Linked DNA regions of Homo sapiens. The protein of the gene in region 2 purifies or fractionates together with the protein of the main gene of each other region. This does not show direct contact. Each region holds a gene or a part of one and is shown on either strand. Other genes may lie near its edges.

Region 1 (3,808 bases), on a different chromosome or scaffold from region 2:
TCTCTTGCTCAGTGATGATCCTTAGAGGCAGGCACTATTATTATTTTATCCCCATTTCACAGACAAGCAAACGGAGGCCCAGGAAGATAAGGTCTACGCAGCCAGTCAGGAGTGAGCCTCCCAGATCCGTCTGGTACAGTTCTGCACAAGAGACACTACAGATGCTCTATCAGGGAGGGGTGTGTGTGTGTGTGTGTGTGTGTGTGTGTGTGTGTGTGTGGTGGTTGTTGTTGGTAAGAGACCACTGCCCACCAAGGCCACATCTGGCTTGTCACTGTTGTCACTCTCCCATTCAAGGCCTTACCTGGCAGAGCAGGGAGATATCCACAGGCCCTACGGCCTCTGGGGCATTCGTGTCAGGAAGCGCCTGACAGTTTCCTCCCATCCTTTCCATGTGAACAGGAAGGAAGGCAGCATCTGGACCTGGATGTGTTTAAAACATCCCCCAAACACCCTCTGGGTTGCAGCGAAATCTCAAAAACTCAGAGCAGGGGTCTGAGGTCTTTAGGGATAGAAGGCAAAGCTCCAAAGAGAGTGGCCCAAGGCCACAAAGCCTGAAGCTCCAGGACACCCCAGCACTTCACACCCCTGCCATTCCCCCTGCCTGGCATCCTGGAGAGAAGCACAAGACCCCAGTCTTGCCTCTTGCCACTTACAGGCTGCATGACCTCTAACAAGCCCCTTAACCTCTCTGGGCCTTAGTTTCTCCCTTTGTAAAAGGAAGGAGCTAATTACCCTGGAAGGTCCCTGCCCTCATGCAGGGAAAGGTGGGGCAGTGATGGCATGAAACCTATCATTACCCCATTAATAATCTAATCAACATCGTGGTAAATGCCCCAAAGGAAGCTCCAGGGAGCTCCAAGGTGTCTGACACAGGAGCCTGACCTGGGGAGCTGCTGCTGGGGCTGAGCGCTCAAAGGTGGAGGAAGAAACCAAGGGAAGGAGCCGGGAACTGCAAGCACAAAGGCCGGATGGGAAGAGCAAGAGCACGGGACAGAGGCCGGGGTGTGTCCAGCACCCGCAGAGCTTGGGCGGGGCAGGGGTGGGTGAGGCTGTGGGAGGCAGGACCACACAGGCTGCTCCACCATGGGGTAGGGTCAAGGAGAGGCGGGGAGGGGAGAGGCTGGTGCAACTGACTCGAGCCCAGAAGACCCAAAGCAGGCCTGGGCCCCAACCAGAGTAAAGATGTTCAGCTGATCCAGCCTAGCTAGGGAACCCCAGAATTTTTTTCATAGAGGCTGAGCTTTTCCTTGTGGCTCAGGCAGTGAGAGATGATTCACCTCCATTTGAGAATGAGGGGCCGCCAAAGGTGTCCTTCCATTAGCAAATGTGTATCACCAGTTACTAAGCTGGAGGCACTAGCCTGGGCCATTCAGGGAAGAGTGACACGACGCCGTGGGGGAGGGAAGGGGGGACACAGACAGGGATATACGTTTGGGGGTGCCCAAAATGCAGTGCAGCTCTGTGCATAACACTCAGACTGATGCCCCAAGCCAACACCCACAGAGGGACACCCAGAGCCAAGCACAGCCCCTGTCATCAAGCACCCAGCTTAACCTGGGGTCACGGGGGTCACACCAGAGCCAGATATAACAGGCAAGCGCCAAGTGCTGTCGGGTCCTTCCCAGGAGCCAGACCTGGCTAATGGGACCCACACCTGCACACTTTCTCTTACGGAACCCTCACGGCAACGTGCGGGGCAAGGACATCCACATCCCCATTCTACAGATGACGAGACCGAGGCTCAGAAAGGGAAAGCTCAGAAAGGAAAAGGCAGAGCTGGGATTCCAGCCCAGTCAGCTTGGCTCCAGATCACAGTGCTCTCTCCCAACCACCCTGGACCTCGGAGAACAAAGGGCTGGCCTGCTGCTTCCACCTGCTCTGACCCCTGCTGTGCCTCACTACCGCAAAGCAGGTAGATGCAGTGCTGACTGAGGCCTCCAGTGATGCCAGGGTCAGCCTGGCATGGAGCACCCCAGCTCCAAGTTCCTTCCGGCACCAAGGGGAGTGAACGTGACCATGGATGAGGTCATGCATGTGGGGACTAGGGGAATGACCTCAGTGAAAACCTTGGCTGCTGGGCAGGCCCTTGCTTGAACTTAGCTGCGCCCCTTTCCTAGGGGACTCTCTCTGCCCCGGAGGCTATGCAAGACACGGGGCCTCCTCCCCTCCTCTGTGCCAGGATGGTGCTAGGTGCACAGAACATCTGAGCTGTCAGCCTCCCAAGTGCCCCACTAGAAAGGATCACATCCCCATTTTACAGGAGGAAGACGGAGTCTTGGTGAGGGGTTTGCACAGGGACAGCATGCACACGGAGGAGGTGACACAGTGAGGTTTGGCTCCAGACTTGACTCCAGAGGTGGAGTTGGCCCCTAGACCACACAGCCTGGCTCTCCTCCCTCCCCAGGCCTCTCCGGCAGGGCAGGCCTCAGGCCCAGGGCTGCAGACACATAAAAGGAGGTGGCTGCAGCTTTGCTGCAACAAGACCACTCCCAGCAAGGTGCTCCCTTGGCTTGGCATTCAATGCCCTTCCCAAGCCAGCCCAACGCCCCTTCCCAGACTCTCCCCATCCCTGCCAGCTCCCACCACTCCCTCCAGCTTTTCCGTTTCAAGCCTGTGGTCCACCTCCAGGCCCTGCCTACTGCCTTTCACTTAATTGTACACATATTTATTGAGCCCCTACAACATGGCAGGCACTGTTCTAAGAGCTGGGCACAGAGACAGCCACTTGAGGCTAACTCCCCAGCTCCAAGGACACCTCCTCCTCCAGGAAGTCTGCCAAGTCCCTCCTCTGAGCTCCCATAGCTCCTCTAGCCACCTCTACCCTTGCCTCCATCATTCCCCAGCCAGAATGGGGCACCCTTTATAGATGGGAGTGGCATGGCCCTCTGCAGCCCCCAGCAAGGGAACAGGGGGAGAAGGGGGAGATAGGGCCAGCAGGAAATTCCAAGGAGATTAGAAGGGAGTTGCCCCCGGGCAGTGTTTCTTCTGTGGGCAGCTCGACAATCGGTCCACTTCACTCAGCCCCACTGGCCCTGGGCCCAGGAGCTGGGCATCAGGGACCTGGGGGACTTCGGTGTAGCTTCTTCTGACTTCAAGACCTACCACCCCCATCCACCCACCACCCAGGACCCCAAGACCCCCAGCTCCAGAAGGTTACAAAGTCAAGGCCCTGGCCACACTCCTTAGTGTTCCCAGCAGCCTTGTAGAAGTAAGTCTAGTGAGCCACTGAAAACAGTAGTAGTTTGTACACATTAGCTCCAGGGAGACACAGACCAGGATTTCCTGTTTCTGTGTGTGGATGAAATGTCACAGCGTGTGTGTGTGTGTGTGTGCGTGCGCGCACGTGTGTGCGTGTGTCTAGGTTCCCTGGTTTGAGAGCCTCTGGCTCCTGTGGGCAAATGCTACATGCCTAATGTTTGCATGCCAGACTGTGCTGTGTCCCTGCTGATGTGCATGTGGGAGTCCCCTTGGTGGGTGTCTGTAAGCCTCGGGTAGGTGTGCAAGTCTCTGCTGCTCTCTTTGTAGAAGAGGCAGGGGAGGTACCCGGGTGGTGAGCTTGTGCCTGGGCCAGCCTGGCAAGGGTAGATGTGCAGACTTCTGTGGATGCTAGTGTGTGTGTATAACGTCTGTGTGGGTTTGTGTCTCCGCCTACATGTGTACTTCTGATAAGTCTGAGTGTGTCTGCAGGATGTCAGTCTGTCTCTGGGACATATCCGGGTGTGTCTAGGGGTGTAAGATGTGTATATGAGAATGTGTTTCTGACGTGGGGGTTGCAGCAGGGTCTGAGCCTCCGTTGTGTCTGTTT
Region 2 (4,577 bases):
CTGCAACCTCCACCTCCCAGGTTCAAGCGATTCTCCTGCCTCAGCTTCCCTAGTAGCTGGGATTACAGGCATGTGCCACCACACCTGGCTAGTTTTCTATTTTTAGTAGAGATGGGGTTTCACCATGTTGACCACGCTGGTCTTGAACTCCTGACCTCAGGTAATCCACCTGCCTCGCCCTCCCAAAATGCTGAAATTACAGGCATGAGCCACTGCACCTGGCCATGACTTTTCTTAATAAACACATTAAATGAACTAGAAAGAGAAGGGAACTTCCTCACCTGAAATGGGCATCTGCAAAAAACCAACAGCTAACACCATACTTAACAGTGAAGAATAAAGTACTTAGGAATAAATTTAACGAAAGAAGTACCTTTGTGGCCAGGCGCAGTGGCTCACGCCTGTAATCCCAGCACTTTGAGAGGCCAAGGCAGGCAGATCATGAGGTCCGGAGTTCAAGACCAGCCTGGCCAACAAAGTGAAACCCTGTCTCTACTAAAAATACAAAAATTAGCCAGGCATGGTGGCGCGAGCCTGTAGTCCCAGCTACTCGGGAGACTGAGGCAGGAGAATCGCTTGAACCCTGGAGGCAGAGGTTGTGGTGAGCCGAGATTGCGCCACTGCACTCCAGCCTGGGCAACAGAGTGAGGCTCTGTCTCAAAAAAAAAAAAAAAAAAAAAAAAAAAAAAATTATATATATATATACATATATATATATATATACACACATATATATATATACATATATATATACACATATATACATATATATATACATATATACATATATATACACATATATACATATATACACATATATACACATATATATACACATATATACACATATATACACATATATATACATATATATACATATATATACATATATATACATATATATATACACATATATATATATATATATATATATATATATATATATATATTTCCCAAACCGTTCTGATTAAAATTCATGGCTCAAGCCTGGCCCAGGGAGGTCCCTGTAAAATTTCTTTTGTAGGGAGGCAAAACCCAGAGCACAGAGAAGCCATGTCTTCAAGAGAGTCACATGGCCAGGAAAAGGCAGAGCTTGGTGGGATTTGGTGGGCAAACTATGAAACATCTGACCCCCAAAACCTGCTCCACTAGCTCCTGGGGCAAGAGGTGTTGAGGCTGCCAACAGCATTGCTCAGAGAAAGGCAGGGAAAGAGCACACCGCCGAGTCCCACCACCGAGTCCCACCACCCACAATACCTACAACAGGGAATCTGGGAAGGAAAGAGCCCCCATGGTCTGGCTTCGTTATGGACAGAACTTCGCATGGGGAAAATGAGGGGGTAGTCAGTGTGCTGGGGGACAGTGTAAGAGACTTACCCAGTGAGCTAACGAGTGCAAAGTTCTCCAGCATCACATCCCGGTATAGGCCCTTCTGGGTCACATTAAGGAGCCCCCACTCCTCCCTGGAGAAATATACCGTCACATCCTCAAACATCACCAAGCCCTGCAATGATGGGTCCAACTGAGCCTTGGGGTCAATGATGGGCAGAAAAAAACAACCAAAATATGGACAGATGGACACATTCAGGCCCTTGACCTGTATCTCAGGGTCCTATCACATCTCCCCCTGACATTATCTTTCCCTATGAGCTCTAAACTCTTCCCCACCTTACTCCCTACACATACCCTTATACCTTCCTTCTCCTATCCCAGAGGAATATCAGAGCTGCTGGTGTTATTGATGCTTCTGGTGTTACTACTGGAAACTGTGTCCAGCCCAAAGCGACATCAGGTTGGTGACCAGACTGATGCCATCTATGTGCAGGGCCAAGGGCACAGGCTCCACTCTATCTCCTGCCTGCCAATTCCAGTCCCAGAGATCATACCTCTCAGACGCAACCAAACCTATGCTCATCCTTCTCCCTTAGGTCTCAAGTACCTGGTCCCAGGGTCCAGTTTGCCTCCTGCTCAACAGGCACAAAACTGGACAACAGAATGCCTAAAACTGTACACCCCCAGCACAACGTCCCCAGTTTACCCTATAGGCAATTGCCTGGCCTTCCACACGCCGTTCTGCACATGCGTCTCCAGAGGGCCTGGCACAGCAACTACGACCCCATCCTGTCCCAGTCCTGCGGCACATCTCCAATGGCTCCCACTGCCAAGGGCATGCCCCAGCCGTGCATCAAAGACCTCCCCCTGGAATCATACGCAGATCTCCTGCCCTCCTCCAACTCTGCCCTGGCACACGCCGCCCCCCACCTGGTGGGCCCCCTCATTCCTCGGAGGCATCCTCTGCTCACCTCCGCCTCCCCGGCCATTGGACCGTGCGGGCAGAACCCGTGGACTGGACCCACGGCCTCAGCCGAAACGCGTCCCGGGCGCGGAAACCCTCGGCCGCCGTGGAACCTTCCCGGGAAGCTCTCCCCGCGCGGGTGAAATGCGTCCGAAGACAGGGAACCGCTTCCCGGAGCCGCTGGGAAGGAGGACGGTACGGAGGCCCGGGAGACCCACGGCGCCTGTCCGCGAGCGATAAGTCTGAGGAAGATGGAGCCACTCGCCGGTGGGGCACGGCGCGTGGAAGGCGCGGCAAAGGTCCCTGCCCTTCACCTCGCGCAGGGGATCGCGAGGAAGTCACCCCGGCCCACGCAGAGCTGCCTGAGGCGCCGGGACAGCCTTCCCGCCGAGGACTGCGGACTGCCGGGCAACGCCGGAACTCCCGGAACTCCCGTGGCCCGCGCCTCCCCTCGCTCGGCGCCCCTCACGCCACGACCTCCATTCCCGGCTCTCCTCGCGGCGCGGCTGGGTCGTTGCCAAGGCGATAAGGGAGGGCGCCGCTAGCTCCTGAAGCGGGACGTGAACTACATTTCCCATAAGGAGCCTCGACGTGGGGCCGTTCAGACTTGGCCAATGGCGGCCCAGGAACGGGAACGTTCGGGCGGGCCCTGCGTGGGGCGGGGCTTCCGGCGTCGGCTTTCGGCGCTGGCTTTGGGGCGGTTTGCGGCAGTGGGATCATTGGGCGGTGGGCGGTGTGGAGGAGTCTCCGCTGGTCCGCAGAAACGAACGAAGGCGCGAGAATCGGGAAGTTCTGCCTCAGTGACCTGTACGCGTCCTAGCCGCAGTGAATGTTGCTGAACCCCGGTGACCTCACAGTGGAGGGGCGGCCCCATGGGGCCATCGGACCGCGCCGCGCGGGGGCGTTCGCCAGGGCCTCCGCAGAAGCCCGCCTGTGCCCGCAACCGCCCCGAAATTCTCTCCCTGGCACCGTGTCCGCTTTACGGAGCCCGGAGCAAGGCTCAGAAAAATGTCCCAGCCAAAAACATGGTACATGCCTGTCATCAGGCAAGTCTTCAAAGAGCGGCTGGGACCAGGGGCCGAGGGACCTCGTTTAGAGGCGGCTTAGGGGGAAGGTCAGCAGTTGTGTTTCAGTTGTGTTGGGTTTTCGGCGCCCCACAATGCGGGCGACGTATGGGCCACAGGTGTGGATGCCAGGGACAGGTCGCCCTGCACATGGCTGAGGCACGGTAGGCTTGTAGTCTACCCCATATCAGGCCATGGTGATCTCAGGTATGGGGGCCTGGGAGAGGAGAGTGAGTACATGGCTGAGTACGTCAGAGCACGGGGTCAGGGACACATCAGGGGAGGACGCTGGCAGGAGAATAACCGGGCTCCTGGGTGTCCTCCGCTGAATTCAGACGCGTTCATGTTAGAGCAGGTGGGCCTGCGTCCTCCCGGACGAACGGAGTTCTTAGGCAAGGTCCAGAGGAGCTTCTACCTGAAGTGGTGCTGGAGAACTTTGCACTCAGTGCTGGGTGAGACCACTGGCACCATAACTCTCCCCAGCCTCAACTCTGGTTTTTTTCCTCTGTTCTTTCCATGTTCCCCTTGGAAGTCGCTGTTGGTCGTGGCACTGAGGCCCAGATCATGCCACCTCCTCTAACAAGTGGCTGAGTGGACACCCCACACATTCTACCCAAGGGCCGTGAGTGGCCAAGATCGGGGCTCAGAAGTCTCTGAATCTTCACAGCTGGTCACGTTCAGCTCGGTCACTTCCTGTAAGATTCCAGGCACTGCATGCACTGACATGGGTGCGTGTGGGCCCACTGGGTCCTGCCTGGGAGCCTTCCCTGAATGTTCATTTTTTGCAGGTCTGTGTTTGTCTTGGAGTAAGGATTATTCTCGCTTGCTGGGGTCATGGTGTTTTGGCCTCTCCTGGCCTGGACTCTCAAAAACTCATCATCCTTCATAGGTCTGAAGGCTTCTACATTCCCACCAGCAGGTGGACCATATGAACTCAAAACTAGTTGTGGCAGAGGGACCCTGAAGAGATCTACCCCTGGTGAATGCCCCCAGGAGTGGGCTGTTCTCACACCTGGTGCCCAGCCTGTGCCCTCGCAGGTCTTGGTGCCTCCACTCAGCTCAATTCCAGTTTTCTGGCCATGCCCCGCTGTGTCCCTTTCTCTCTCCTTAGTGCCTAGCTGTGCAATGTTTGCCTCTCCTTAACATGTCCTCAGCTGACCCCATATCCTCAGTCCTTGCAACCCTGTTCCTCAGTGACACCTGTGTATTCTCTCCAG

Evidence for each region.
Region 1: the proteins of ZNF584 (region 2) and MTCL2 purify together in Homo sapiens (affinity purification with mass spectrometry; one large-scale study listed by BioGRID and IntAct). This does not show direct contact.

What each region holds. Positions count from the first base shown.
Region 1 is NC_000020.11:36,853,524-36,857,331, forward strand, and holds part of MTCL2 (microtubule cross-linking factor 2), read right to left. Parts: intron 1-3,808. UniProt on the Homo sapiens protein: Microtubule-associated factor that enables integration of the centrosomal and Golgi-associated microtubules on the Golgi membrane, supporting directional migration. Preferentially acts on the perinuclear microtubules accumulated around the Golgi.
Region 2 is NC_000019.10:58,406,892-58,411,468, reverse strand, and holds the start of ZNF584 (zinc finger protein 584), read right to left. Parts: upstream 2,821-4,577; 5' UTR 2,322-2,820; coding exon 2,304-2,321; intron 1,529-2,303; coding exon 1,378-1,528; intron 1-1,377. UniProt on the Homo sapiens protein: May be involved in transcriptional regulation.